Regions from separate parts of the Homo sapiens genome. Here region 2 is linked to region 1. The links come from fine-mapping of genetic effects on gene expression. A gene starts in region 1. The other region holds a variant in brackets. All regions are shown on one strand. Distances are between the middles of the regions.

Region 1 (2,913 bases):
TCCTACCAAGTGTTCTCAGATGGTGCCCTCCCCACTTCCTCCCACTGCTTCCTATATCCTTGCCCTGCTATAGTTTTCTCTATGGACCTTATTAACATCTGACTGGCACGTTACATATTTATTTTTTAAATACTGATTTTTTTTTTTTGAGATGGAGTCTTGCTCTGTCACCCAGGCTGGAGTGCAATAGCACGATCTCGGCTCACTGCAACCTCTGCCTCCTGGGGTCAAGTGATTCTCCTGCCTCAGCCTCCTGAGTAGCTGGAATTACAGGTGCCCACCACCATGCCCAGCTATTTTTTGTATTTTTAGTAGAGATGGGGTTTCACCAGGTTGGCTAGGCCGGTCTCGAACTCCTGACCTCAGGTGATCCACCTGCCTCAGCCTACCAAAGTGCTGGGATTACAGGTGTGAGCCACCACGCTTGGCCTAAAATACTGATTCTTTATGTGATTGCTGTATGTCTCCCCCGAATGGAATCCCAGCCCCAAGAACAGTGTCTGCTGGCACAAGCAGCACTCGTGTATTTGTTGAACTCAAGTGGTTGAACAGGAGACTTTTCAATAGTCTTTAATCTAGGGTGACAGATGAGCCTCTGGGCATTCTGGGGCCCTTTGGGACAGTTCTCGGCTACTGTTCACACTGCACATGGAGGGCTTCAAAGGATCCAGGGTCTGAATCAGCCAAGAACTTAGACACAGCTTCAGTTCAGGAGAGATGTCCTCTCTCATGAACGAAGAGCTCTCGAAAATGCCTATGACTGCAACAACAACTACAAGGAGTCCTTGATCACACAGCAGGAGGCACATGCGCCCTGTGAACTTGGTGGCTGCAGTCCTTGTGATGGTGCTTTTGGCTATTTCAGAAGAGGGAAATGTAAACAAACCTGCCCTTTATCTCCACTAGTTTGAATTTACCCAATCTCCCCAATAACTAATAAAAATAACGATACACATAAATATAATTTAGTTTGTTTTTATTTCAGCAGTTGTACGTGGGTTTTTCACCTGCCCCGCATTCTGTCTCCTGATCCCCCAGTAGAGTTTTGCTAAGTATTTCCCAGCTGCTCACACCCCTTAGAAACGCGCTTGGCATGCACCCCGAGGCCCTGCTCTTCTCTCCCTGTCCCACCACTTCAGGGCTGCTGGGGAATGGGTCTCTCTGTGGGCCACAGGTGTAACCATTGTGTTTTCCTTGTCTGTGCCAGGGACACCTTGGCACTCAGATGCCTGAAGGTAGCAGCTTGTCCCTCTTTGCCTTCTCTAATTAGATATTTCTCTCTCTCTCTCCCTCTCTCCATAAAGAAAACTATGAGAGAGGGTGGGTATGAACCAAGTTTGTTTCCTTGGTTAGTTTCCTAACCAAGTTTGAGGGTATGAACATACTCTCCTTTTCCTTTTCTATAAAGCTGAGGAGAAGAGTGAGGGAGTGTGGGCAAGAGAGGTGGCTCAGGCTTTCCCTGGGCCTGATTGAACTTTAAAACTTCTCTACTAATTAAACAACACTGGGCTCTACACTTTGCTTAACCCTGGGAACTGGTCATCAGCCTTTGACCTCAGTTCCCCCTCCTGACCAGCTCTCTGCCCCACCCTGTCCTCTGGAACCTCTGCGAGATTTAGAGGAAAGAACCAGTTTTCAGGCGGATTGCCTCAGATCACACTATCTCCACTTGCCCAGCCCTGTGGAAGATTAGCGGCCATGTATTCCAATGTGATAGGAACTGTAACCTCTGGAAAAAGGTAAGAGGGGTGAGCTTTCCCCTTGCCTGCCCCTACTGGGTTTTGTGACCTCCAAAGGACTCACAGGAATGACCTCCAACACCTTTGAGAAGACCAGGCCCTCTCCCTGGTAGTTACAGTCAAAGACCTGTTTGGAAGACGTCATTTCAAGTGCTCTCCCTCCCACCCCACCTCTTGGGGTAAGGCCTTTCCTAAGCTACCCCTTGGGTCCCTAGCCTAAGAAACAAGGGGGATGTCATCCCTGGTGTAAAGATGCTGTGCAGGAAGTCAGCACTCACGGGATCCAGGGGACGCTCCAAGGGGAATCCCCAGGGCCTGCCATCCATCCGGGAAGAGAGCAAATGCTACCCATGAGGACCTCCTCACTCCCTTTTTGCTCTTTCTTCCACTCAGATCCACCCCACTCCACCCCCACCCAAATCCCAGTGACCTTTGACTAAAGGGCCAAAACTGCTTCCTTTTCTCACAATGAGAGTTGTCCCTCCCTCAATGCCACACACACTCCCTTCTTCATCTGAGTTGTCACAGGAGGCTAGAAACGGGGTGGTGGCACAACTGTCTTGGTTTTAATTTGTGCTTCATAGCCCTCCCAGGGTCCTCTCAGCCTCAAATTGCATTTCCAAATGTAGTTGAAGGACAGAGTGGGCAACCGAAGGCAGTGGAGATGGGAAGATGAATGGCAGGGTCCTCTCCTCTCTCTCTCTGCTTCTTCAGCCTGCCTTCCACATCTCCCTTGGTGCCGCTGCTTCTCTCCGGCTTTGCACCTCTGTTCTTGAAAGGGCTGCAGAACTGGACTCAGACCACGCAAGAAGGCAAGTCCCCCTCAGCTGCCCCAGCTTCCAGCCAGCCCCAGGCTTGCCCAACGGACCACGTCCGTGAATCTGCACTGGGTGCCTGTCTTTCTCTCCCAGGAGAAGATGGGAAGATCCAGTACCCACACACAGACCCCCTTGTGTACACGCAGGAACCATAAACCAGCTGGAGGCAGCCCCTGCCCCACCCTGTCTTATCTACAAAAAATATTACAAGAGACTTTATCTCTTGATTTGCTTCATCGAGTGTCCCAACTACCTCATTTTTTTAAAATGTGAAATTAGCTTCATTTACCTTCATTGAATCCATGTTGGCGACTATTAAAAATTCCAGGCAATAAAAAGGGATGAGAGCCTGAACT
Region 2 (2,913 bases), 330 kb before region 1:
GAAACTTAAGTTCAAATCTGAGGAGGGTTTTCAAATATATACAGATAAAGTTCAACACTAAGCACCACCAGCATACATACTGGAGACCAGAAGAGAACTATGATTTAGGAGCTGCAACTAGGATCTGAGCATCTTAAGAATGAAGAAGGGCAAGAGGGCCGGGCACAGTGGCTCCATGCCTGTAATCCCAGCACTTTGGGAGGCCAAGGCAGGCAGATCACAAGGTCAGGAGTTCAAGACCAGACTGGCCAGCATGGTGAAACCCCATCTCTACTAAAAATACAAAAAATTAGCAGGGCATGGTGGTGCACACCTGTAATCCTAGCTACTCGGGAGGCTGAAGCAGGAGAATTGCTTGAACCTGGCAGGTGGAGGTTGCAGTGAGCCATTGCACCACCGCACTCCAGCCTGGGTGACAGAGCAAGACTCTGTCTCCAAAAAAAAAAAAGAAAGAAAGAAAGAAAGAAGGAATTCCTTTTACTTTAAAAAAAAAAAAAGCTATCTTTCAAATATTTGCTTCTCACAACTCTGACATTTAAACATGGTGATAAAGATATTGAACTAATTTAAGTTCACAAAATAAACTGTATTTATTTATAGATATTTCTAGGCTTCAAAATATACAAGAAATTGAATGTATCCTAAGATAATTTACTAAAATGATATTGGTATCTGAATCTTCCCAACACACTCTCACAAACAAGGTTTTGGCCAAGTCTCCAAGTTCTCTCTTCACTTCCCTCAGCCTCAGGGGCTAGATACAGAACCATAGAATAAGGCAAATACTGGCTTTAGCAATACAGTCAGTAACATAAAGAGCTACCAGTATTTTTACTCAATGTTGTTGTGCTATAAGTGTTGGGTTCCCAGAATGAATGCTGAAATGGTCTTATTCTTATCTATTCTATTGGTATTAGGCCACTCTAGTGACTACTTTTATACATACATATATACATATATATGTATATACATATGTGTGTGTATTTGTGTGTATAGCTCATATTCTTTCCTTAAAGTGAAGAAGTACTCTAAATCCAACACTTCTCCAGAAGTTATTCTACTTCTTGGTTCCAAAAGAAGCATCAGATCATCACAAACTTGTGAGCTTGAAGCACCAAAGATTCTCCAAATCTCTCAGCCCACGCATAGGTTGACAAAGAAAACAAGGTGAAATGTGAAGGGTTAAAAAAATATTTTCAATGTGTCACATTGGGAAGTACAGATAAGAAGAATGCTGTGAACATTAATAAATCCCTCACTTTAGATAAAGTGAATTCAAAGTACTTCTTGAACTGTATTAGTCTAGGAATACAATATTTGTAACTTGCTTGAAACAGGAATACTCCCTATAACAGAAGAGTCTGTTAAAGTATGAGGTCTTCTGTTTTCCTTTGTTTTATTCACATATTCTGCCACTTTTTCTTGTACAAGCACACACAGTCTAACACATTCAAAAACTTCCGAATGCCACATTTATACCCATTAACCAATGATTACCCTAAAGTGCCTTCTCAATGCCAAATTAACAGTTTTAACTTTTAACAACTATACAGAAATCCTACCTGCCAGTCTAAAGTTCAACTTCTGCAGTAGCACCATATTTATATCATAATGTTCCCAAAATTTCTTCATTATTTTACCATGCTATCCCCATTTTAATCTTATATGAGTAAAAATT[A/T]AAAAAGCAGCAAAAGATTGATGCTAATAAGAACTGTAGGCCTCAAAACTTATATAATTAAGACAATAAACTCATTCATTCAACAAATATTATTTGAGCACCTTCTGCATACCAAGTATTAGTCTAGGTGCCAGAAATACAAGAGAGAACATACAGCCTGTACTCCAGCAAATATTAAGTTGAATGTGCTTGGGGATGGATGAGAGGGAATCATTAGATAAGCTAAAAACAGAAAGGTTCAGCCTCAGCTGGATAGTTACTGGATTTAGCCCAATAATTCAAGTGTTTATAGAGGAAAACAGAACCAAAGAATATGCTAGAAATATGTCATTGAAGACTATGCCTACAAGGTCAAGTGTAAATAGAGACTTTAAACTACTTTTAGTTCTCTGGGTATTCTCCACTTCCTACTCCTAAATGAAATATAAAGTCTACTGTCTGATTTTTATACATTTAACTTCAGTGTATATTTAGTTTTGTTTTAAGGAGCAGGGAGTTTAATAGGCAAGAAACAAGGGCAAAAAAAAAGCGGCTCCCCATACAGAGACAGAGGGAGAGGGGCTCCAAAGCCAAGAGACAGAACACCACCTGCCATGCATACTAACCAGGTATATATGCAGAGGCTGGAGGACGTGATGTCTGATTTGCATAGGGCTCATGGGATGGGTTTGACTAGGCATGCAATTCACGTAGCAGGTGGAAAAAGCTGGCCCTCCCACCCTAGCTTTTCATATGCAAATGCAGGGCACCATGATGCTCTCCACACGCAAGGATATGTGTGGGCAGCCATGTTGCCAGGAACATGTGGGGCAAGGGCAAGAAGGCCCTGGGAATTGCCATGTTGGGTGGACCCGGTTTCTAATGGCTACCATTTGTATATTATAGGTTGCTGGCCTGGCTCTAAGAGCTGGGGCTTTACAAGAAACTTTTCCAGAGATGCTTTAAAAAATGAAAATTTCCCAAGGATCCCTTTTCATCTCTATATGCCTAAAATAATTTCTTAATAACTCCTACAACATTCCCCACTGTGGAGATGCCACACTAACTGCTGTTAGGGGGTTTTGGGCCATGACTCTTTCTGGCTACTCCCGGACTTAAGCGTATTTTTAAGAAAGCACTGTATGTGAAAACAGGAGAACACCTGTATGTAATTTTGCATACATTGGTAGTTAAACCCCAGCCATATTTATTCTTTTTTCCCCTTTCTCATCTCTTCTTTTTCACATTCTTTATGT

Direction of the effects. Alleles are on the strand shown, and positions count from the first base shown. SD is a standard deviation of normalised expression in the study named.
For the expression in esophagus mucosa of the gene that starts at base 1,631 in region 1, allele A in region 2 goes with a lower level than allele T (moderate effect, 0.70 SD a copy in GTEx).

The links. PIP is the estimated chance that this variant, and not a neighbour inherited with it, causes the effect. A credible set is the group of variants that fine-mapping cannot tell apart.
Region 2: its variant is the best candidate, but not a certain one, in a credible set for the expression of SERPINC1 in esophagus mucosa (GTEx, PIP 0.88).

The regions. Positions count from the first base shown.
Region 1 is chr1:173,916,045-173,918,957 of GRCh38, reverse strand. SERPINC1 (serpin family C member 1) reads left to right here and starts at 1,631. Exons shown (of 7, transcript NM_000488.4): 1 at 1,631-1,739. The coding sequence starts at 1,699. LOC124904457 (a long non-coding RNA gene) reads right to left here and starts at 2,458. Exons shown (of 2, transcript XR_007066739.1): 1 at 2,018-2,458.
Region 2 is chr1:174,247,186-174,250,098 of GRCh38, reverse strand. The region is part of intron 5 of RABGAP1L (RAB GTPase activating protein 1 like); the gene reads right to left. Among named protein-coding and RNA genes, the nearest start is that of RABGAP1L, 89 kb to the right of the region's middle. The variant A/T (reference allele first, on the strand shown) is at 1,679.